Linked DNA regions of Homo sapiens. The protein of the gene in region 1 binds, or shares a complex with, the protein of each later gene. Each region holds a gene or a part of one and is shown on either strand. Other genes may lie near its edges.

Region 1 (8,392 bases):
TGTTTTGTTCTGATGGGAAGTGGTTCAGTTTTGAATTTGATTTATCAGTAGATGTTTGGGTTTTTGAAAAGCCTCTGATATTTAGAATCGGAATGTAGGGAACCTTACGTCAGCGCTGGGTCTGTGAGCGAGGATGGCGATCGGGATGCGACTTCGGGTCTTTTCCTTAAAACTGGATGCTTTGTTTCATTTCCTTCCCTCCAAGATCGACCTGATGCCCCATGACCTCATCACTCAGCTCTTGCGCGTCCTGGCCATCGAGACCAAGCAGGAGAAGGCGATGGCGCACGCCGACCCCACGGAGCTGGCGCTGAGCGGCCTGGAGGCCTTCTCTTTCGACTACATCGTCAAGTGGCCCCTTTCGCTCATCATCAACAGGTGCGGGTCGGCTGCTCGGGCACCTGCCAGATCTTCACTCAGGTTTGGCAGAAGCGAGAACTGTGCCACGCGGTGGCCACCTCGTCCCACAGAGGACCCAAGGCGGCTCTCCCCGGCCTTCAGTGTCCGAGAGATTCACGGGCTGTCCGGGGGCCACGGTGCGGACTGTGGAGTACAGACGCCGTGTCCACGACGCCGCCGGTCACGGAGGCCCACCTGAGGTGCCGCCACGTCTCTTGCAGGAAAGCCCTCACTCGCTACCAGATGCTCTTCAGGCACATGTTCTACTGCAAGCACGTGGAGCGGCAGCTCTGCAGCGTCTGGATCAGCAACAAAACCGCCAAGCAGCACTCGCTGCACTCCGCCCAGTGGTGCGTTCTTCCTCTGCCCCCGCATGCCCTCCTGAAGCAGCGCTCGCTGCACTCTGCCCAGTGGTGCAGCGCCCCCCTTGTGCCCTCCTGGTAGACAGCTTTCTAGGCTTCTGGAAGTGTCATCTGGAAGCGCACGTTGGTGGCTTTAGATCCATAATGCTTCATTGCTTCATTTTCCTGTCTTGGGGCTGCACGGCGCTGCCGTCCACCCCACAGGGGATGCTGGCTCTGTCCCTCAGCCCTCTCTGGAGCCTTGTGGTGACTGCACGGGCATGGAGACTGCCCAGGTCGGTGTGCAGGACACTAGCTCCTCCCGAGAGCGGACAGCCACATCTTGCTGGGACCAGAGGTGCTTTGCAGCCGGTCTGTGCCTCTAGGGTGTTGAAAAAAGGGGTCGATGGCAGAGCTTCATAAGAATTTGTCCAGTCGGGTGCAGTGGCTCATGCCTGTAATCTCAGCACTTTGGGAAGCTGAGGAGGGAGGATTGTTTGAGCCCACAAGTTCGAGACCCGCCTGGACAATGTAACAAGAGCTCATCTCTTAAAAAAAAAGAAAATTATTTTAATTAGCCGGGAATGCCTGTAGTTCCAGCAACTCAGGAGGCTGAGGTGGGAGGGTTGCTTGAGTCCAGGAGGTCAAGGCTGCAGTGAGCCAAGATCGTGCCACTGCACTGCAGTCTGAGCGACAGCAAGACCCTGTCTCTCGAAGAAAAAAAGAAATTAGAAGAAAAAGAACTCATCTTGATGATGAAGCACAAATATGCATCTGTTGTGTGGCACTTTCCTGGCGTGGGCTCCGAGGGGTCCGTCCACCAAGGAGCCCGCGTCCCAGTCTCCACCGTCCAGCTGGCTGGGGGTGTCCCTGCAGGGCACAGGTTGGTAGACGGTGACAGCTTGTGCTGGGCAGACGCAGGAGCAGCGGCCGTGAGTGTCTGGTGTGCTGGGAGGGGCGCTTGCTCTGCAGAGGAAATAGCCACGTCCAGAGAACGTCCTCCATGGCTGTCCTCCGTCCTCCGTGTCACTTGGTGGGCGCTGTCGGGGCCGCGTCCTCCATGGCTGTCCTCCGTCCTCCGTGTCACTCAGGTTTGCTGGGGCTTTCACTCTGCGGCAGCGAATGCTCAACTTCGTCCAGAATATTCAATACTACATGATGTTTGAAGTGATGGAACCGACCTGGCACATCCTGGAGAAAAACCTGAAATCCGTGAGTTTTAGCTCCACAGATAATAACGTTTGAAAGCCACTTTCCTTTCACAGGGAGACAGGAAGTGCAGGAGAGGCAGGGCGAGGGGAGAGGCAGGGAGTGCAGGAGAGGCAGGGAATGCAGGGAGACGCAGGGAGTGCAGGAGAGGCAGGGAGTGCGGGAGAGGCAGGGCGTGCGGGAGAGGCAGGGAATGCGGGAGAGGCAGGGAGTGCAGGGAGACACGGAGTGCAGGAGAGGCAGGGCAAGGGGAGAGGAAGGGATCCCCCAGGGCGGGGCTGCACCCACACTGCTGGCCACACACGGGACCCCTTGCTGCCTGCCGTCCTAGGGGGACTCTGAGCCGTCTTTGCCCCGAGGTTGTCTCTCCCACATTGCGCATCTGAGGCTGAGGGGCCTGAAGGCAGAATCTGTTGGTACCAAATTCCAGAAGCTGCCGCAGCCTCCCTTCCTGTCTTCTGCCTTAAGAAATGAAACCCCTTCGGGGTGTGCCCATCATTTTTTTAGTGGTGTTTGGAAGTTTTCCCCTAAAAGCCCAAGGCCCATTTAAGAGGTAGAAGTGCGTAAACAGGAATGCACAAAGCCAGAACTGAGCACGTGCGCATGCAGGGCCCGTCTGTCAGCCACGTCTTTCTGAGAAGGGGCTTGGCCTGTTCCCCGCAGGCCTCCAACATTGACGACGTCCTTGGCCACCACACAGGCTTCCTGGACACCTGCCTGAAGGACTGCATGCTCACCAACCCCGAGCTGCTGAAGGTCTTCTCCAAGCTCATGTCTGTGTGCGTCATGTTCACCAACTGCATGCAGGTGCGTGGGTGTGGGTAGCACCATCGGGTGGGCAGGCGCGGGTGGGCAGACCATGTCCCGACCGTGGCCGCACGCAGCCTGCTCACGTTTTCCTGCCCTTGTGTTCGTGGAGGAGCCGCTGGGATCTGAGTGTTTCCAGAACTCCTGGTCTTCCTGGCCGGGTGATTCCCTCCTGGAGCCCCTGCCCTGGCAGCGTGGGCAGGGCTGTGTTCCTCCCGAACCATCCCTCAGCCTCTGTGGTGCTGGTCTCTGTCCGGGGCCTTTGCTTATGGCCCTTGCATGCTCTTTTCCTCAGCACTTGAGCTATTTGATTCCGTTAAGGACCTGCAGGCACTAGTCACAAGCAGCTGCCGACTGGCGATGGTGCAGAACCTGCGTGTCTAGTGGCAGAAGCAGGGGTCTGAGAATGAGGCTCTCCAGGCAGTGCCATGGGGAGGGTCCGGAGGAGGGCGAGTGGGGAGGTGGAGGAGGGCATGGCCACTTCAGGGTCCCAAATAGGGAAACACCAAAATAACTGTTCTCAGGAAAATCAGCTGGTCACCGTGGAAGGTAGACCTGGGAATTCTGTCGGCACAGATAAGTCATTTCCCCTGCAGCCTCAGAGATGCTTGTGTACCCCCAGCCGCAGGCTACAACAGAGGTGCGGAGGGTGACGTGCCTGCAGGACTTGTTTTTTCTGCAAAGCATTGTGGTTGTAACTAACAGAAGCATTTCCTTGCGACTCTCCCCCCCTAGAAATTTACACAGAGCATGAAATTAGATGGCGAGCTGGGCGGGCAGACGCTGGAGCACAGCACCGTCCTGGGGCTGCCCGCAGGGGCCGAGGAGCGGGCCCGGAAGGAGCTCGCCAGGAAGGTGCGTGGCCTCCAGGTTTGGCCAGAGAGAGACGCTTCCTCCCGGCTGGGCGGCAGCCTGGGCATCCTGACGCAGGGAGAACAAACCTCCCCCCTTTTACTTCCATCTCCCCTCAGATTGAAGAAAAGACTTAAAATTAGCTTCCAAGCACAAGCACAAGAGCCTCTCACAATCTTCTCAGCTCTCTGGTCCCCACTTCAGCCAGTCGGGCTCGAGGGAACCCCCACAGATCTTCAGAGCGAGCGCTGTGCAGGGCGCCTGGGCGAGGGCAGGGGCCACACCCGCTGTCCCTGCTGAGCTCGGTCCTGAGTTAGAACCGTCAGGCTCTCAGCAGGCACGGACAGGCTGCATGTCCTCGGAGGCATGGCCCTGCGGCGCCGGCTCCGGGGTGGCATGGTGGGGTGGGCAGTCCCGTGTTCACACGCTGGAGCTGGAGCTGGCAGAGAGGAGTTGGGTTTGGAAGCGTGGGGGCCGGAGGTGAGGGACACTGAGAGGCGCCCCGACCTCCTTGCTGAGAAAGCTGCTGGGAAAGCTCGTTCATCTCACCCCAAAGGAGAGTGACCACCTCATCCCACGAGGCCTGGAGTGTTTCTCTGAGTGCTGGGTTCTCAGGAATGTTTTTTGATGTCTTTTTTACCTTGAATCTCCTGAAAACATCATGGAACCCATGTTTTCTATTTAAGAAAAGGGGAAGGGAAAGGACACCGGCCTGCTGGGAACAGTGTGGAGCCAAGAAGGCCCACGGTGGGGGTGGGCATGGCTCACGCACCCCGGCTTTCTTTCCAGCACCTGGCTGAGCACGCAGACACTGTGCAGCTGGTGTCCGGCTTCGAGGCCACCATCAACAAGTTTGACAAGAACTTCTCAGCCCACCTGCTGGACCTCCTGGCCCGGCTGAGCATCTATAGCACCAGTGACTGTGAGCACGGCATGGCCAGCGTCATCTCCAGGTGGGTGGGCGCCACCCCGGCTCAGCCCTTCCTCAGCTCAGTCCAGCGCCTGCCCCTGCCCAGCACCGCCCTGGCTCAGCCCTTCCTCAGCTCAGTCCAGCACCTGCCCCTGCCCAACACCGCCCTGGCCCAGTGCTGTCCCTGCTCAGCCGTCCCCCAGCTCAGCCCAGCACCTGCCCCTGCCCAGCACTGCCCTGGCCCAGTGCTGCCCCGGCTCAGCCTTCCCCCAGCTCAGCCCAGCACCTGCCCCTGCCCAGCACCGCCCTGGCTCAGCCCTTCCTCAGCTCAGTCCAGCACCTGCCCCTGCCCAACACCGCCCTGGCCCAGTGCTGTCCCGGCTCAGCCTTCCCCCAGCTCAGCCCAGCGCCTGCCCCTGCCCAGCACCGCCCTGGCCCAGTGCTGCCCCGGCTCAGCCTTCCCCCAGCTCAGCCCAGCGCCTGCCCCGGCTCAGCCCTTCCTCAGCTCAGCCCAGCATCTGCCCCAGCCCAGCGCCACCCCAGCTCAGCACCTGTCCCTGCATCCAGGCCCCATCTCCCCTGCACCCTCCCCTGGTCCACCTGGTGTAGCCTCCTTCAGAAGGTGGGGCAGGTCTGTGTCCTGGTGCTAGTGCTGGTCATATGCCACTCCCTGAAGTCAGGCTAGCCCAGCTCTCCCTGGGGTGTGACATTCTGTGCAACTGGGCTGCCCCATTGGCACCCTGCGGCTGTGTGTGTCCTGTGGGGCTGATCAGGCCTGGGTCAGCTTCCCTCATGCTGCACTAACACCTAGCCTGGGGGAAAGGGCCAGGTGGCCAAACTGCCAGCCTGGAAGGGGTGGTGCCCTTGGGGGTGCTGTCCTTGGGAAGGTGCCTATTTGTGCTTTTGGACCACCCTGTGCCCTGTGCCCCCCACAAATGTTCTGATTTTCTGAGCAGGGATTTCTGAGGCCACCCTGCATTGAGAACCACTGCTTGGTTCTCCAAGCCCCTGACACCTCAGGCCCCATTGCTAGGCCCTGTTGGGGTGATGGGAGCCCCAACTTTCTGGGGCCAGGAGAGAAGAAACCTGTGTTTGTGCCTTTGAGCAGGACTGAACAGGACTGAAAACCTTCCTGTGGAAACATTAGTTAGGAGCGTGCCTCACCCTCACCCCTGCAGGGCCTCTTATGGTCTCTGTAGCTGAACACTTCCCCATGGTAGGAGCAGGGCTGCTCAGGACGGACCCGCAGAAGGAGTGTGTGCCCCAGCTCCACTGTCCTTCCTCACCCCTGCTGCCCAGCACGCACCCGCAGAAGGGGTGTGCACCCTAGCTGCACCGTCCTTCCACACCCCTGCTGCCCAGCATGCACCCGCAGAAGGGGTGTGCACCCCAGCTCCACTGTCCTTCCTCACAGGCTTGACTTCAATGGTTTCTACACGGAGCGCCTGGAGCGCCTGTCTGCAGAGAGGAGCCAGAAGGCCACCCCCCAAGTGCCTGTCCTGCGGGGGCCCCCGGCTCCTGCACCCAGGGTCGCAGTCACCGCACAGTGAGCCCTGGCTGTGACAGGAAGGAAGGGTGTGGGGTCAGCAGGGACTGGTGCAAATGGGTCCAGAATTTTCAAATCGAATGCTCTGTGTTCTGTCTTTGCAGTTTAAATATAAAGCAGGAATGATTGACTCAGCTCACTTTGTTTCTCAAGGCGCTGGGTTTCGTTTTATAGAAGCTGCCCAGGCAGGGTGGATGTCTCCCTGGATTTGCTAATCTGTTTGCTTTTTGAAATTACACTATCACCTTTTTGGGTGTTTTTGGCCTCAAAGTGGAAATACATGGTGTTTAAGCCAGGAGCAAGCAAAGATGCATGTGGGGTAAGATCCAGGCCTGGTGTCCACATCTTTCCGGGTGAGCTGGGGCCGGGCTTCCTGAGGTCTGTCGGAACCGGGACAAGCCTCTGGAAACGGTCAGGGAGTTGTGGAAACCCACCGGGCATCGGGTGTCGGGTTTGCTTTGGCCCCAGAGGCAGCCCCGTTCCTTCTCCTGAGGACTCACCCGCCTCCACGACCCTCCTCCTGCTGCTGCTCCAACTGGTCCAGGGCAGGAGGCCACAGACAGGGCCCTCAGGCACCCTGGGAGCCCACACCTCCCCCTCCGTGGGAGTGGGTCGAGGGGCAGGCTCTGCTGCTGGCTGGAAACCCCACCCCGCCCTATCCGGTACCGCCTTGTTACGTAGAACTTACTCAGCAGACTGACACCCAATCCCCCTCGGGCGATCATCTGCCCTGTCTTCCCACCTCCAGGGCTACAGTGGGCAGCACCGCCATCCCCAGTGTGACAGGGCCCTGGGAGCCTCAGGGCTGCCCGGCCAGGTTGGTCTGCTCTGGTTACATTCTGGCCAAGCTGCCCCTTCCTGCTGACCTGCATGTGTATTGTTGTCACCTTCAGCTCTCAGCACCTCGGCCCCCTTGGGCAGTGAGGAAGGGCCCTGGAGGCGAGGTTGGGAGAAAGGATAGCTAGAACAGGATCCTGCGGGGAACAAGGGTTGTGGGCAGCTCTCACCCGGGGCTGCCTCACTGAGAGCACCGCCGAGTGGGGGTGGGGGTGTCCAACTCTCCAGCCACAAACCGCTTCCTCCTTGTCTGCAGGCTGTGCAGGTCTGGCCTGTGAGTAAACACATTTATCAGCAACCCAAGCTGTCAGTCTCAGTGTTGTGCAAATGCCGGACTGGTGAGCAGAGGAGCCTGCTAGCTTTCCTGCCTGGCCCCGAGGCCCAGAAACCCCTGATCTTGTGTCCTGGGGTCTGGGAAGCCCTGGGCCTTGAGAAGTGGGGTTTGCAGGTGGTGATAGGAGGAGGGGAGGGAAGCCTCCAGGGCTGTGGGGTTCAGGCTCCCAGACCCCCCGGCACCTGCTGAAGAGGAGAGCTGTGTTCTGTGGGATTGGGTGGAACTTCCTCAGCGCGGGAGGAGCCTGTTCTGGCCCAAGCTGGTCCTGTCTTTTTAGGAATAAATCCCTGGTAGCTCAGCGTCGGCAGGGGCCTTGCTGTGCCTCTGATGTGGCCAGCGTGCCGCCTTTGCACTTTGCTGTTGAGTAACTTGCACCATGAGGTCAAGGAAGGGAAGTGTGATTGCCAGCTGGCCATTGTTCTATAATAACAGGGTCACCTGCATGAGCTCAGGCACAGGCCAGTATCCCCAGCCCTACCTGGGAGCCTCTCGGCAGCCTGGGGGACCTCGTCCTGTGCCACACAGGCAAGCGGACACACCCCCAGGCAGCAGAAGTCACCTGCGGCCCAGTGCCAGCCCTTGCTTTCTTGCTTTTCATGCCATTCACATTAGGGTAAGAATGGCTTTGAGACAAAATGTGACAGCATCACTCACGCCAGCTTAGATCCTCCGGGTTCCCTGTCCTCCCAGGATAACGTCCGAGGCCCCGGCCTCTTCTTGCCACTGCCCCTTGACCTCTGTCCTCTGCCCCTAGGCCCGTGCAGTTCCCTGACTCGCCCTGCCCTGGTGCCCTCTCTCCAGGCAGGACTCCCTCCAGCCCCTTGCTGGCCCTGCCCTGCCTCTCCCCAGGGAGGCCCTGAGGCCCCCCCCCCCCATGTGATCTGTCAGCAGCGCCCTGTGTGGTCATCTGAGCTGCCTTTCCTGCCACCACCACTGTTCCCACTCCAGGAGGGCGGCCTGGCTGTGAAAGCCCCAGGGAGGGGTCCTGGGTGGACCGTCTGGGGAGCTGTGGTGTCAGCCCAAACCTGCACCCTCGAGGCTGAGCCCACCACGGGGAATGTGGTCACCAAGGGCAAGCACGCTTGGCCGCAGGCCTGGAGACGCCGGAGCCAGGCCACGGTGGGCTGCTGCAGGCTTTGGTCCACGTCGGCCAGCGT
Region 2 (7,827 bases), on another chromosome or scaffold:
TCCATATGATGTGATGAAAATGTCACTTCACCCTGGGGGTCTTCCTCCCAAAAATATGTAGCCCCAGTCTAGTCATGATAAAAATATCAGACTCAGTTGAGACAGTCTACTAATAACCTTTAATCCTCAAAATTCTCAAGATCATGAAAAAAAAAGTCCGAGAAATTGTCAATGTCAAGAGAAGCCCAAAGAGACAAGACAAATGAATGTAACATTCCTAGAGGGAGCCTAGAGACAGCAAAAGGCCACCGAGTGCTAAGTGAGGAAATCTAAATAACTATGGAGCTTGATTAATACTAGTGTATCATTATTAATTAATTAATTCTAACAAGTGTACCACGGTTATGTAAGACAAAATGGTACTGGGCTTACAGGAACTCTATATTTGCAATTTTTCTGTAAGTCTATCATCATTCTAAAATAAAACATTTTTTTAAAATATATTAATGCCAAGACTCACTTTTCACAAATTCTGATTTTATCAGTCTGGAGTGGGGAGCCATGGCATCAATATTTTTTAAAGCTCCGTTTTCAAACTTTTAGTCTTCAAGATAAGAAAGCAACTAAAATGTGAGGGGGGAAAAAGCTTTCTTTGGTAAACTCAAAAATGAATTTCAACCTATATCACATGCCACATATGAAAATTTGTTGGGAAAAGCTGAGTGTTGGGAGAAGCTGAGGCAGGGCTTGCATGTCTGACTAACGTAAAAGAGTCTTGGAACATGTCCGGGGTCCAGGGTCTAAAATCCCTTGAGGCCTTTGGAACGCCAATCTGTGCTAAAGGGCGGAAGGCTACCCTGACGCACCATAATCTCAGCCCAGGGCATAAAACCCCTCGTGGCTTGGATGGAATCCAGGACTCGTGGCTCTGGAATGTGTCTAGACTTGCTGGCTCCTTGCTCCTTGCTCTCCCAGGATCGATTGTATCTTGAGTTAAAAGAACCTGCTCTCGGCCGGGCGCGGTGGCTCACGCCTGTAATCCCAGCACTTTGGGAGGCCGAGGCGGGCGGATCACGAGGTCAGGAGATCGAGACCATCCTGGCTAACACGGTGAAACCCCGTCTCTACTAAAAATACAAAAAATTAGCCGGGCGTGGTGGTGGGCGCCTGTAATCCCAGCTACTCGGGAGGCTGAGGCAGGAGAATGGCATGAACCCAAGAGGCGGAGCTTGCAGTGAGCCGGGATAGCGCCACTGCAGTCCAGCTTGGGCGAAAGAGTGAGACTCCGTCTCAAAAAAAAAAAAAAAAAAAAAAAAAAAAGAACCTGCTCTCCATTATCTCAAGTAGCAGAGCAGATGCTAAATCATCACACCTGTAAATCATGTGCTTAATGCAACGCGACCTTTCGACCCCCACATTCTCACCACCTGTTTCTTTGTTTGATCACCAATAAATAGTCTGGGCTTCCAGAGCTCAGGGCCTTCACAGCCTCCATACTTAGCGATGGCCCCCTGGACCCACTTTCGCTCTCAAACTGTCTTTTCTCATTCCTTCGACTCCACCAGACTTCGTCACCCCCACGACCTGGTGTTGGGTCTGATCACCCCAGCAAAAATTAAATAGAAGAGTAAAACATAAGCCCCTCTTAGAAATAAAACAAAACAAAGAAATCTTTGCAACTTTGAGTTTGGCAGAGTTCCTACATGACACCAAAATGATGACCCATTTTTTTAGAAATTCATACATTGGCCTTCATCAAGATTAAAAACTTTTGCTCTGCAAAAGACACTGTTAAGAGAATGAAAATACTGAGAAAAAATATGTGCAAAACACAAAGACATAAGCAAAAGTTTTGAACAGATAATTCACCAAGAAGACATATGAATGGCAAACACACACACACACACAAAGATGTTCAACATCACTAGGAAAATTAAAATTAAAACCACACTGAGATATCACAACACACTTGCTAGAATAGCTAAGATTAAAAACCACTAACACTGCTGAGTGCAGGTGGGGCCACGGCATCCCTGGAGCTCTCCCACACTGCTGAGTGACAGTGGGGCCACGGCATCCCTGGAGCTCTCCCACACTGCTGAATGCCCGCGGGGCCACGGCATCCCTGGGGCTCTCGCACACTGCTGAGTGCCAGCGGGGCCACGGCATCCCTGCAGCTCTCCCACACTGCTGAGTGCCCGCGGGGCCACGGCATCCCCGGAGCTCTCGCACACTGCTGAGTGTCAGGGGGCCACGGCATCCCTGGAGCTCTCCCACACTGCTGAGTGCCGGGGGGCCACGGCATCCCTGGAGCTCTCCCACACTGCTGTGTGCGGGTGGAGCCATGGCATCCCTGGAGCTCTCCCACACTGCTGAGTGGGGGTGGAGCCATGGCATCCCTGGAGCTCTCCCACACTGCTGTGTGCGGGTGGAGCCATGGCATCCCTGGAGCTCTCCCACACTGCTGGTGCAGCGGCAAAGCAGCCACAGCCATACTGGAAAAGAGTCTGGCAACTTCTGAAAACAATGAGCATGCACCTGCCCTGAGGCCCAACAACCCCACTTGCAGGTGTTTATTCTAGAAAACTAACTTAAGTTCACATAAAAAACCTGTCCATGAATGTTCATAGCAGCATTATCCATAACTGCCAAAAACGGAAGCACTCCAAATGTCCCTCAGTGGTAAAATGGATAAACTGGTTCATCATACAATGGAACACTACTCTGCAATGAAAAGGTGAACTATTGATATGGCACTGTAAATGCATCTCAAACGCGTTATACTAAGTGAAAGAAACAAGTCTCAAAACTTTTGACTGAACACTGTATGACTGCATTTACGTGAAATTCTAGAAGCGGAGACATACACAGACACAGGATGGTGGCGGCCAGCACAAAGGCAAAATGGTAGCACAGAGGAAATCACTGTGAACCTAAACACTGAGAATTTTTTTAAATGGGCTAAATAGCAGAATGGAGATACTAAAGGACAATTTAAATGCAAGCTAGAAAATCAAACACAACAAAAGAACAGTTAGAAATTATGAAGAAAAAATAGTAAAATTTTTCTATCATTAAAAAAAAGTCAGCCCTGCGTGGTGGCTCACACCTGTAATTGCAACACTTTCAGGGGCTGAGGTGGATCACTTGAGCCCAGGAGTTTGCGACCAGCCTGGACAATACAGCAAGATCCTTCTCAAAAAAAAAATTCTAAGTCTGTCACTAGCTTTGAAAAAAATAATAAATTTTAAAAAAAGGAAAAGTCCTCAGATTGAAGGATCATCAAGTGTTAATCCAGGTAAATTTTTAAGTTCCACACCTAGACACATTATTGCAAAATTTCAGAACATGCAGGATTTTTTAAAATTCTAAAAGCTACCAGACACATCTTCAAAGGAGTAAGAAATGGATTAACATCAGACTTCTCATCAATAATGAAAGAATACCTTCAAAGTGGGCAGAGGAAAAACACTTCAGACCAGAATATCTATATCTGACTGATGATCCAAGAGTTCAGGAATAGAAGCGTAAGAGAAATAAAGACATTTTCAGACTATTAAGTAATTATTTAGATCAGCAAATCCTGTTGATTCTATTTCTAAAAGCATATCCCAAATATGATCACTCCACAGCTACCATCCCATTACAGGAAGTCTCCTGAGGAGCTGCTCACTTGCTTCCACCTTTGCCCCCTTAGAGTGAATTATCCACCCAGCAGTCAAAGTGATCCTCTTAAAATATAAATATTATCATCACTCTGCTCACACACCCATCACACTCACAACAGAACCCAACCTCCTGGCCCCAGCCCAGGGAGCCGGCCCCTTGCTCCCCACATTGCACTCCTGCTATTCCTGGAACACACCAAGCTCACCTCCAGCTCGGCACCCAGCTCTCTCTTCTCCACATCCTCTAAGGACTCACACCCCCCCATCTTTCTGTCCCTATTCTAGCTAAAGCAGACACAAGCGCACTGTGTCAGCAAGGATCCAGTGAATGCCTGCATAGTGGGGAAAGGAACAAAATGAAATCTAAAATGTTTTGTGGGGTCACAGGGTCGGGGTAGTTTTTTTCTCCTTATATTTTTCCACTTTCTGAATTTTTACACTGCGTATATATTAATTTTACAAATATTAAAAGTATCATTGAAAAGTTTCCTTTAAAAGTTGTGTCACTATTTAAGAATTTTTTTTTTCCCAGACAAGGTCTCACTCTGTCGCCCAGGCTGGAGTGCAGTGGTAAGATCTCGGCTCCCTGCAACCTCTGCCTCCTGGGCTCAAGTGATTCCCCCACCTCAGCCTCCCAAGTAGCTGGGACTACAGGTATGTGTCACCACATCCAGCTAATTTTTATATTTTCTGTACAGACAGGGTCTTACCATGTTGCCCAGGCTGGTCTCGAACTCCTGGGATCAAGCAATCCTCCCGCCTTGGCCTCCCAAAGTGCTGGGATTACAGGTGTGAGCCACCGTACCCAGCCAGTAAAAATTATTTTTAGGTTACCATTTTCACACTCAAGTACATCACATAAATATCCCCAATCCAAATGTTTTATATACTTTTCAACTTTCTCATACCAAAAAGTTAGGAACTCTTCAATGCCAGAAACACTCTCCTCTTCACCTCCTCACTTTCTCTGCACCTCAGATGGATGTCATCATTTCACCCCCACTTACCTCTTCAGCCACACCTGAGTCTCCCTGTCCTCTTACCAACCAAATTTCCAGTTTATCCTTCTTGCTGATTATAAAATATTTTTAAAAATCCAACTGTTACCTCTTAAACCAAATCTACTTAATCTGTGCTTCAGAGGGAAAAGCACAGAATCCAGACTACTAAAGAAATTAGACATAGCAATCATTCCTTGTTTAGTGAACCTGCAATCAAAGAATAAGCTGGGAAAAAATCAAGCAATGTCCACTACACGCTTCTGGTTTAAATACTCCCAAAATACTGTTCAGTGTTTAAAGTATAACTAAACTCAATCAGTAATTCAATGAATAACTCCTAAATACTTACTACAGGCCAAACACGTCAGGCCCTAACAATATGATGTACAGTGGTTAATGAGACAGACGTAGAACATAACAAATGTGGCACATAAGTACCCAAGGCAGACTGTGATAAGAGCGTCAAAGAAAATGAGGGCACTATGACAGCTCATGACCAGGAGGACCTCGTGAAGTAGATGCTGAGGGAAGGCCTTGCAGGAAACACCGTTAGCCTGGCAGCCAAGGCTGCCACGTGAGGAGCCCAGGGACCAGAGAGGGGAACCCACAGGGAAGGGCGGCACTGGACACTGCTGCTGCAGGGAGGCCGTGCCACAGGGCTCTAAATGCCACTCAGTCAGTCACTCCATCGAGAGCCCCAGGTGACAAGGTCCAGATGTAGATCTCTGATGATTCTGCTTAATGCAAGAGTGAAAAATAGAGTACTCCATTTTTTTGGCCACAAATCACCTAAGGAGAGGTCTAGTTCTCCCACCTCTAATCTGCTCTGGGTGTGTGAGGGGTGGGCAGTTCTCAGGTTCCTGGAAGGGGAGTGAACACTCCTCTGATGATCCTCTGAAATTATTTCAATGAATGCAAGGGCACACTGCCTGACCAGAGAGCAGTGCTGCTGAGTTGTACACTCTAAACACAAGAGCGGATAGAGGTGAGAAGCCATCCCACAAGCTGGGCCATGACTTATTGTCTCTATCGAGCACACAGAGAAATTCGCCATCAAATTCAACACTTAAAAGCCGGGGTGAATTAATTCAAAATATCAAGCTGTAGAATCAGAACTTGGGTTCCAACCTTGGCCCCGCAATTTACTAGCTCGATGATAGTGAGCAAACTACTTAATCTCTCAAAGTCTCAGTTTTCTCATCTAGAAAATGAGGTTCACCATAATTCTACCACAGTATAAGCACAACATCCAGCATATTTTAAGTTTTATATAAATGTTAGCTATTCGTATTGTTATTAACCTGAAAATATTAAATACATACTATATCTGCTACAGCCATTAGAATCACAACTCAAAAAATGCACCCAATTTTTAACCTTGAGCAAGATAATTTGGTCTTCATCTTGAAGACTACAAATAGAGAACAAATTAAGCCTTCAACAGATTCGATGAGATTGGTTTTCTAGAAAGGACCCTCTGACTGAAGAGGAGAAGAGGAACTAGAGGAGATACAAAGCCAAGGCAAGACCCTCAGCTGGAATTGCGTTCAGTCCCAAATGTGAAGGCTCCAGAGACACCTGGATGTGGGCCCAAGAGCTTTTAAACAAAAAAGTTGCCCTTTGTATCCCCAAAAGATTCTATATACACTCAGGTTAAAGATGACAACTGAACTTCAAGATGCACAAAAATAAATTCGACTCAAGTGAATACAGAAACTCCACAGTTGTGTGTTTCTCAAGATTCAAAAAACAACTGCGGAAAAGTTGAACTGTTTGGGGAGACCCAAGTTTCTGCCTTCCTGTTTCTTGTCGACAGCGTGGACTATATGTTCCACACTTCTGCTTTTCTGAAGGATGGGGGAGGGGTCAGGAGGGCGTTGGGAGTAAGCCACAGTGCTTAGTAGAGGAACAGAGCACATACACTAGCCACCCTTGACTCCAGATGCAAGTCAGAGTAACTTATCACGCATTTTAATGTTTCGGATGCCAAGCTCCAACAGACACCTACAGGATCAGAAGCCCTAGAGATGAAGCCCACAATATTAATTCTGAGTAAGTCCCACATTTAGAGAGTTTAAAATGAAAAGGCATGAAGTTAGATACCATAAAAAGTCCTGTTCTCAACCACTGGCCACCAGCTCCCCTTCCCACAGGCAATCAACGTTATCAGGTTCTTGTGAAATCACAGGCGATTCCAATGCATGGCTCTAGTTGAAAAGCAATGCTCTAAAACAACAAAAACATTACTCTAGATGCGTGGTTCTCAAACTCTTTGGTCTCAGGGCTTCTTTACACTATTACGATTGAGAACTCCAAAAAGCTTTTGTTTATGTAGGTTATATCTATCCACAGTTACCATATTAGAAATTTAAGCCAAAACAATTTTTAAATTTTAACTTATTGAAAAATAGTAAATCCATCAAGTACAACTTGAAACAAAGCCTGAAACTCTGAAGTTTTAATACACATCTAATGTATATCTTAATATACATGTAATACACATTGATCTTCCCAAGAATGTAATTATATAACCAAAGGAAGATCACATGGTATTTGGAACTTCATCAAAAGCTCTTTACCATTTTGGAAAATCATGAAACCAATAGCAACACCACTTGTGGTACTGAATCACCAAAACAATAATCCTTTATCTTCTGATAGTGGCTTGTAGGACACTCATAGAGGTCTTGCATATTATGGCAATCATCTTCGAATATGCTGTGTACTGTAGTCATACCTGAACATTTATGATGAAATACTTATCTAATATAAATTCCTCTTTATGTATTCTTTACCTCATAGTTAGAAAAAGGATTACAAAGTAGCTATGAAAAGAAGTGTTACCTCTGACAGATTTGAACATTAACATCAAGCACACTGTTTCCAATGATAAGAATAATTACGCAAAGACATAATAAATAAATGTGCTCCCAGGAGGGGCAGGGATATGGAGACAGGATTTGACTATGACTGGCTGGCAGTATGTGTTTCAAGCAAATTCACAGATGTTATAAGTTGGAAAAGGTGGTAAATCATGGTCATGCTAACTTTGTAAAACTGTCAAGCACCATTATATGTAGGTGCTTTGCTTCTGAAGGTCCCTTGAAGTCAACTGTATAATTTTTTAAAAGATACCTTATAAAAATGTGATTCATATGAAATTCTCATTAAAAGTAACAAGTACCTATTATGCCTTGATTTCATAGTACTAAAAAAAA
Region 3 (8,596 bases), on another chromosome or scaffold:
CTCGGCCTCCCAAAGTGCTGGGATTACAGGCTGTTCCACTGTGCCCAGGAAGCCCAGGAGTCCGAGATGAGCCTGGGCAACACAGCGAGACTCCCATCTCTATTTTTTTTTTTAAAGATGGTATGGTGTTATGATACATATTGGTTTTCGTCCACAGCTCCTGGCTCATGACTCTCATAGTCCTTGTTAGTCTTTTGTTATAATATTGAGTGTGTTAGCCCTCAGGGGCAGTATCTGACCTTCTCCTGCACTCCTTTCACTCTAACCTTCCTGGGCCTTTCTGACTGTGGGCCTTAAGACCCTCCCATAAAGCTTCCATGAAAACCCAAGAGGACAGGGTTCAGTGAGCTTCCAGATGCCTGAACACCTGGAGGTTCCTGGAGGGTGGAGCACCCAGAGAGGGCATGGAAGCTCCACACCCCTGCCCTCATACCTTACCCTCCGTGTCTCTTCATCTGTATCCTTTGCGATATGCTGGCTTTTTTTTTTTTTTTTTCAAATGGAATCTTGCTCTTTCACCCAGGCTGGAGTGCAGTGGCGCCATCTCGGCCCACTGCAACCTCCACCTCTAGGGTTCAAGCGATTCTCATTGCCTTAGCCTCCCTTGTAGCTGGGATTACAGACACCCACCAACCACACCTGGCTAATTTTTTTTTTTTTAGTAGAGACGGTTTCACCATGTTGGCCAGGCTGGTCTCGAAGTCCTGACCTCAAGCGATGCACTTGCCTTGGCCTCCCAAAGTGCTTGGATTATAGGCATGAGCCACCACACTAGGCCTGCAATATGGTTTCTAATAAACCAGTAATTGTCAGTGTTTCCCCGAGTTCTGTGAGCTGCTCCCACAAATCAATTGGACCCAAAGAGGGGGTCATGAGAACCCCAACTTAAAGCCTGCTGGTCAGAAGTTCTGGAGGCCCAGACTTGGGACTGGTGCGGGGCAGGGAGGCAGTCTTGGGGACTAAGCCCTCAACCTATGAGGTCTGACACTGTCTCTGGGTAGATGGTGTTAGAACTGAATTAAAGGACACCCAGCTGGTGTCCACTGCTGGGTGGGGAACAAAAGCCCCATGTGTATGGTCACAGAAATCTGTGTGGATGATTGCTGTGGTGTGAGAGTAGAGGAAATGGTTACAGTTTTCTCTAAACAATTGGTGTCAGTGAAGTGGGATTTGCAGGAATGGCCCTGACTCACATAAACATGTGGTTTGGGAAGAAAAAGGATAAAAGGGTGGAGGAAGAGGTCGTCAATTCCTGGGTGACCACGTGGTCACCATGGTGTGAAGCCACAACTCTGTTGAGATCAGTTACTAAAGGTAAAACTTACTAGTGGAATTTAGAGATGGATCCAACTCCCAGGAATTGGTTCATTGAATGCATAAGGAAATGCAAACTAATAAGAAAAATGTGAAATATTCAGCCCCCTGATTATTGTTATCTATAATGGCTAAAATGAAAGTAAAAGAGGGTGCTGGGTTAGGAATTGAGGCTGGACCAAGCACAGATGTGGGTCTGGCTGAGCTCAGGCCACTAGCCTCGGAGTCACCCACAAAGGAGGAAATTATGCAGGGACAACAGAAAGTACCTCTGAGACCTGTGGTTACCAAGAAGGTAGTCAATGTGAAGGAACCAAGTAATTATCGAAACCAGACAGTAGAGTGTGGAGGAATTGTTCCATTTCATAGATCAGTATCATCAGCTTCCTGAGGAACATTTACTAAAATGGATTCTGAGAGTGACTAATTTAGGGGCAGTATGCAGAGTGGAAGAGCATGTTTGGGTTGATGCAGGACTCACAGTTCACCATTCTAGTCACAGTTGGGTATATATGATTCAGACACACAGGAGATTATTCCTGAGGGAACAGCCAGCCTGGTGGAATGTAGAAAAGTCACTGTAAAGGTCGGGCATGGTGGCTCACACCTGTAATCCCAGCACTTTGGGAGGCCGAGGCGCGTGGATCACCTGAGGTCAGGAGTTCAAGACCAGCCGGGCCAACATGGTGAAACCCTGTCTCTACTAAAAATACAAAAGTTAGCCGGGCGTGGTGGCTCATGCCTGTAATCCCAGCTACTCAAGAGGCCAAGGCAAGAGAATCACTTGAACCCGGGAAGTGGAGGTTGCAGTGAGCCAAAATCATGCCAGTGCACTCCAGCCTGGGCAACAGAAAGAGACTCTGTCTCAAAAAAAAAATTAGCTGGCATGGTGGCATGTGCCTGTGGTCCCAGTTACTCAGGAGGCTGAGGTGGAAGGATCGCTTGAGCCCAGGATTCCAAGGCTGCATAAAAAGTCTCAGAGGCTGGGTGCGGTGGCTTACGCCTGTAATCCCAACATTTGGAAGGGATCACAAGGTCAGGAGTTTGAGACCAGCCTGGCCAACATGATGAAACCCCGTCTCTACTAAAAATACAAAAATTAGCAGGGTATGGTGGAGCGTGCCTATAATCCCAGGTACTTGGGAAGCTGAAGCAGGAGAATTGCTTGAACCTGGGAGGCAGAGGTTGCACTGAGCTGAGATCAAGCCATTGCACTCCAGCCTGGGCTACAGAGTGCGACTACGTCTCAAAAAAAAAAAAAAAAAAAAAAGGCTGGGCGTGGTGGCTCACGCCTGTAATCCCACAGCACTTTGGGAGGCCAAGGCAGGTGGATCACATGAGGTCGACCAACATGGAGAAACCCCGTCTCTACTAAAAATACAAAATTAGCTGGGCGTGATGGTGCATGCCTGTAATCCTAGCTACTTGGGAGGCTGAGGCAGGAGAATCGCTTGAACCCGGGAGGTGGAGCTTGCGGTGAGTTGAGATCGAGCCATTGCACTCCAGCCTGGGCAACGAGAGCGAAACTCCATCTAAAAAAAAAAAAAAAAAAAGATTGTAACTTGGCTACTTGGCTGAGCATGGTGGCTCATGCCTGTAACCCAGCACTTTGGGAGGCTGAGGCAGGTGGATTACCTGAGCTCAGGGGTTCGAGACCAGTCCGGGCAACATGACAAAACCCCTGTCTCTACTGAAAATACAAAAAAATTAGCCGGGTGTGGTGGTGCACACCTGTAATCTCAGCTACTAGGGAGGCTGAGCCAGGAGAATCGCTTGAACCTGAGAGAGGCAGAGGTTGTAGTGAGCCGAGATCATGCCACTGCACTCCAACCTGGGCAACAGAGTGAGACTTAGTCTCAAAAAAAAAAAAAAATCTTAAGTGGCATTTACAGTGTTTGTGATTCTAGATCAGGCTACGTTTCATTCCATAAAATAAATAGAATGAGTGTTCAGATGAGTCAAGCACAGGTTAGTTTTTATGGACAAAAAAGGGTAGAGAAAAATAGAAACAGAAGGAAAAAAAGCAGATGGGTCCTTTCAAAGTTACTTTTCTTGTAAAAGGACTTCCGTATCATGCCGGCTCACACTGGCTTGTTTGGGGTTTTGGCTCTTCCTTCCCTCTCCTGATTCCTCTGAAGGTTTGATAAACAACTTAGTGTTGCTTAGTGACATAGAACTTTAGCGTGAGTGACTCCATTTTGGTTTGGTCTGTTGAGCCAAGCACAGGAGCTCAGTGCAAATCAATGGCCTCCTATAAAATTTATTTAACTGAACCCTTGTGCATTGCTGGTGGGAATTTAAAATGGTGCAGCTACCATGGAAAATCGTATGGCGATTCCTCAGAACATTAAACACAATTACCATATGATCCAGCAATTCTACCTCTGGGTGTATATCCAAAATAATTGAAAGCAGGGACTCGAACAGATATTTGTACACTCACATTCAAAGCAGCAACATTCACAATAGCCAAAAGGTGGAAGCAACCCAAATGTCCATGGAGGGATGAATGGTTATGCAAAATGTGGTACATCTATACAATGGAATATTATTCAGTTGTAAAAAGGAAGGAAATTCTGACACATGCTACGAAATGGAAGGATCTTGAAGATATTATGTTAAGTGAAAGAAGCCAGACCCAAAAAGACAAATACTGTATAATTCCACTCATATCAGGTGCCTAGAGTAGTCAAGGGGAAGTTACTGTTTAATCGCGATAGAGTTTCAGTTTGGGAAGATAAGAAAGTTCTAGAAAAGAATGGTGGTGGTGGTTACAGAACAATGTGAGTGTACTTGGTGCCACAGAACTGTATGCAGTACTTACAAATGGTTACAATGGTAAATTTAGGCCAGGAGTGGTGGCTCATGCCTGTAATCCCAGCATTTTGGGAGGCCAAGGCAGGAGGATTGATTGAGGCCAGTAGTTTAAGACCATCTTGGGCAACACGGTGAGATCCCCATCTCTATAAAAATACATTTTAAAAATTTAAAAATTAGCTGGGCGTGGTAGCACACGCCTGTAGTCCCAGCTACTCGGGAGACTGAAGTGGGAGGATCACTTAAGCCAGAAGTTCAAGGCTACAGTGAGCTATGATCGCGCCACTGCACTCCAGCCTGGGCGACAGAGCGAGACCCTTCTAAAAAATAAAAAGGTAACATACATGTGTATGTATTGTAACACCATTAAAAAACAGAAATTTAAACGAAGAAAAGTTGGCTTCTAGCCCTTTGATCTAGCAAAGCTGACAGTGTCCTCACCTACCAATATAGGTAGATGACTCCTTACACGTGGACAAGCACATCCACCTGGCCGCTTCTCCCCTTTCCTCCCCTCCCCCGTTCCTCTCCTCCCCAACACATCCAGGTTCCGACCCTGCCACCCCCAACGAGTCTCACTGCGCAGGCGCGGAGCGGTGGGCAGGAGCGGGCGTGGCCTGACTCTGCGCCTGTGCGGAATTCCAGCTGCGACTGCTGAGGGAGAAAATGATGCCCAGGTTGGGCTCCCCGGCCCACCGGCCGAGGAGAGGCCTGCGCTGCACACGCGCAGACCGAGCATCCGCGTCAAGAGGCGAAGAGAGCGCGCGCTCCCCACGTCCTGCGCTCCTGGCTGCCGGGCATTCGTCTCAGCCGTGACTCTCGCCAGGCCGGGGCTGGCGCGCCCACGTCTGAAGAGCGATGCCCCGGGAGATCATCACCCTGCAGCTGGGCCAGTGCGGCAACCAGAGTGAGCAAGCGAGCGCCGGCCCCGCCGGTCTCTGGTTCTGCCCCTTCGGGTCCCACCCAAGTGCCTGGCTTCCACCAGTCCCCCTTTCCCTTCCATGAACCCCCTGCCCTGCTGCTCTGGATAACCCAGACCGAGAGCTGCGCCTCCAGCCCGGGGCTGGGGCAGCTACCAAACCCAGGCATCTTGGGTCCACCCTCTGATCGTGTCAGCCTCTGAGACTAAAACTGGGCTCCTCAGGCCTTAAGGCTCCAGCAGACCCGGGCATCTCCCCCCTCCCCCAGTTGGGTTCGAGTTCTGGAAACAGCTGTGCGCCGAGCATGGTATCAGCCCCGAGGGCATCGTGGAGGAATTCGCCACCGAGGGCACTGACCGCAAGGACGTCTTTTTCTACCAGGTGCCCCCAGCGACTTGGCCGGGGGCGGCAGTGGCCCAAGGGGGCGGAAGGGAAGGGAGTGGCCTGGTACTGGGAACCCCGCTGGGCAGTAGGGCCAGGCGGCTGGCTTGAGGAGGGAGGGCCGGAGGGAGCCAGAGTTGGGAGGACTTCGGACTTGGGCCGCCCTAGCTGATTGGGCCCCCTCCTGGACTCCCCTTGACAGGCAGACGATGAGCACTACATCCCCCGGGCCGTGCTGCTGGACTTGGAACCCCGGGTGATCCACTCCATCCTCAACTCCCCCTATGCCAAGCTCTACAACCCAGAGAACATCTACCTGTCGGAACATGGAGGAGGAGCTGGCAACAACTGGGCCAGCGGATTCTCCCAGGTGTCCTAGCGACCATTCCAGAGACCTTTGATATTCCCATCCAGAGGCAAGGCAGGCTCAAGCTACTAGGAATTTGACCTGACTGACAGAAAATAAGAGACAAAAGGATGTCCCGAACAAGAGGGACAGCCAGGGAGAGGTTTATGCAAATTTTGTGCAAATCATTTGCAATAGTAGCACTTCTGGGTTGAGGGCTACAGCCTAGGCTCTGCTTCAGGGTGGCAACAATATTCCAGGGTAGACAGAATTCTTGGTGCTGTGCTGAGAAAAGATGCTCTCTGGAACCTTTGGCCTGACCCTCCCTTTCCATATCTCTATACAGGGTGAGAAAATTCATGAAGACATCTTTGACATCATAGACCGAGAAGCAGATGGAAGTGACAGTTTGGAGGTGAAGTTATGGAGTGGGGGAAGGAATGGGCAGGGAGGCCGAAGAGTGCTGGGGACAGGTCAGGAGGTGGCCTGGATAGGTAATATGAGGGGAGCAATTCAATTCAAAACCCGTTTATGGAGCATCAGATGTGGGATATTGAGGTGAATAAGATATAATCTTTGTTCTCAAGGAAGTCATAAATCTGAATGGCACCGGCCCCTTAGGCATGAGTCATTCAGCTGCTTCTCCAGCTCCAAACCTTCCCAAGGAGCCTCAGCCTGGATGCATAAGAGGAAGCTTTGAGACATTGGCGTTTTGGGAATGGAGAATGAACCAAGCCGAAGTCTCTCCCCCAGATCCTTGGAGACTGCCTCTCCATCTCTCCCCATGCTGGGTGCGATATGTTCCTGGCTTACAGCTCTTATAACCCATGTAATTTCCTAAGGGACTAGAGCAATAATAGTATGTTTTGTTAAAATATTTGACCTTTTGTCCTTGGTTTCTGAAACAGCTCCAGAACAGCTCCAGAGTGATAAAGGTGAAAGACAGTCTTTTGTTATTTATAACAAGCCCGTTTCTTTTAGTTTAATCTTTCATTTTATTTTAATTAGTTAATTTTACTAACCACTGTACTAAGGAGGAACAAGTGCCTTTCAACCAAACCTGAGCTTATGTTAAAGAGGCGATTTTTGGAAAGTCCCAGATAGCCACTGGATGGGGGGCTGGTTGCCAGGGGAACAAACCTGGTGCTCTGAGGGTTGGAATTTACAGGCCCACCCCTCACCTCTGGGGAAGGGAGAGGGGATGAAGATTGAGTAGAGCACCAATTGCCAATGATTTAATCGGTCATGCCTGTGTAATGAAGCCTCCATAAAAATCCAAAAGGACTGAGTTTGGGGGCTTCCAGGAAGGTGAACAAGAACACATCCACAGGCCAGGAGGGTGCAAACCCAACGCCACAGGGCAGCAACTCCTATGCGCCGGACCCTTCTAGAGCTTCCCCTCGGTATCTCTTCATCTGGCTGTTTATTTGTATCCTTTAAAATATCCTTTATAACAAATGGATGAACGTAAGTAAGTGTCTCCTTGAGTTCTGTGAGCTACTCTAACAAATTAATTGAACCCAAGGAGCAGTCCTGAGAACCTCGATTTATAGCTGGTTGGTCAGAGGCACAGATAAAACAACCTGAAGCTTGTGTTGGCATTGGAAGTGGGAGAGTCTTGTGGGACTGAGCCTTCACTCTGTGGGATCTGATGCTATCTTCAGGTACAGATACTCCTCAACTTACAATGGGTTTATCAGGATGTAAACACATCACAAATTGAAAATATTGACTAGGCACAGTGGCTCATGCCTGTAATCCCAGCACTTTGGGAGGCCGAAGCAGGTGGATCATCCGAGCCCAGGAGTTCAAAACCAGCCTGGGCAACATGGTGAAACCCCATCTCTGCAAAATATACAAACATTATCCAGGCATGGTGGTACATGCCTATAGTCCAAGCTACTTGGAGGCTGAGATAGGAAGATGCCTTGAGCCCAGGAATTCAAGGCTGCAGTGAGCTATGATCACACCACTGCACTGCAGTCTGGGGGACTGAGTGAGATCCTGTCTCTAAAACCAAAACAAATTTGAGGACAGGTGCGGTAGCTCATGCTTGTAATCCCAACACTTTGGCAGGCCGAGGCGGGCAGATCACTTGAGGTCAGGAGTTCAAGACCAGCCTGGCCAACATGGTGAAACCCCGTATCTACGAAAAATAAAAAAATTAGCCAGGCGTGGTGGTACATGCCCGTAGTCCCAGCTACTTGAGAGGCTGAGGCAGGAGAATGGCTCGAACCTAGGAGGTAGAGGTTGCAGTGAGCCAAGATCGGGCCATTGCACTACAGCTTGGGTGACAGAGCAAGACTCCGTCTCAAAAAAAAAAAAAATTGAAAATACCGTAAGTAGAAATGCATCAGGTTATAACCCAATAAGCCCATCATGAAGTTGAAAAATTGTAAATTGAACCATTGTAATTCAGATGCTTCTTGATTTAAGATGGGATTATGTCCTGATAAACCCATCATAAAGCCAAAACATCTTAAATTAAACCATCCTAAGTCAGGGACAGTCTGTAGGTAGTCCAGAATTGAAGTGAATTAGTGGATACCCAGCTGGCATCTACTGTAGAATTGACTGCTTACCTGATGTGTGTGGTAAGACCCCACCCATCTGGTATCAGAATTGTGTTGTGAGAGTGTGGCAGGAGAAACTGAGTCTGTTTATTCCTGTATACACACAGGGCTTCGTGCTGTGTCACTCCATCGCTGGGGGTACGGGTTCTGGCCTGGGCTCCTACCTCCTGGAGCGACTGAATGACAGGCAAGCCTGTGTTTGGGGAGAGGGCATTAACCCTGGTTCCCTGAGTAATGTCATTGCT

What was found. Proteins that work in one complex are often made in the same cells at the same time.
Region 2: the proteins of TUBGCP2 (region 1) and TUBGCP3 are in contact, whole or in part, in a cryo-EM structure (PDB 8Q62), measured with the Homo sapiens proteins. Residues at the interface, in NP_006650.1 of Homo sapiens: Gln172, His173, Pro175, Ile176, Phe177, Pro178, Trp180, Arg184, Ala186, Leu187, Ile188, Gly189, Phe191, Leu222, Tyr223, Val226, Val228, Asp229, Gly230, Arg231, Glu278, Ser281, Phe283, Gln287, His290, Ala291, Ala294, Arg297, Val300, Lys301; in NP_006313.1 of Homo sapiens: Glu272, Asn273, Cys274, Ser286, Leu287, Asp289, Thr290, Val292, Arg293, Glu296, Trp299, Ser361, Thr363, Leu364, Arg365, Leu368, Val369, Tyr372, Lys375, Ile376, Lys379, Ala382, Ala383, Asp386, His387, Ala402, Tyr403, Lys405, Thr406, Gly407.
Region 3: TUBGCP2 (region 1) and TUBG2 share a complex: the UniProt entries of both Homo sapiens proteins name them as parts of the gamma-tubulin ring complex.

What each region holds. Positions count from the first base shown.
Region 1 is NC_000010.11:133,277,442-133,285,833, reverse strand, and holds the end of TUBGCP2 (gamma-tubulin complex component 2), read left to right. Parts: intron 1-205; coding exon 206-378; intron 379-620; coding exon 621-749; intron 750-1,831; coding exon 1,832-1,952; intron 1,953-2,612; coding exon 2,613-2,756; intron 2,757-3,491; coding exon 3,492-3,611; intron 3,612-4,397; coding exon 4,398-4,561; intron 4,562-5,932; coding exon 5,933-6,068; 3' UTR 6,069-7,199; downstream 7,200-8,392. UniProt on the Homo sapiens protein: Component of the gamma-tubulin ring complex (gTuRC) which mediates microtubule nucleation.
Region 2 is NC_000013.11:112,577,327-112,585,153, forward strand, and holds part of TUBGCP3 (gamma-tubulin complex component 3), read right to left. Parts: intron 6,836-7,827; exon of another isoform or gene 6,713-6,835; intron 1-6,712. UniProt on the Homo sapiens protein: Component of the gamma-tubulin ring complex (gTuRC) which mediates microtubule nucleation.
Region 3 is NC_000017.11:42,654,515-42,663,110, forward strand, and holds the start of TUBG2 (tubulin gamma-2 chain), read left to right. Parts: upstream 1-4,769; 5' UTR 4,770-4,989; coding exon 4,990-5,038; intron 5,039-5,319; coding exon 5,320-5,432; intron 5,433-5,634; coding exon 5,635-5,802; intron 5,803-6,124; coding exon 6,125-6,193; intron 6,194-6,686; coding exon of another isoform or gene 6,687-6,713; intron 6,714-8,458; coding exon 8,459-8,538; intron 8,539-8,596. UniProt on the Homo sapiens protein: Tubulin is the major constituent of microtubules, protein filaments consisting of alpha- and beta-tubulin heterodimers. Gamma-tubulin is a key component of the gamma-tubulin ring complex (gTuRC) which mediates microtubule nucleation.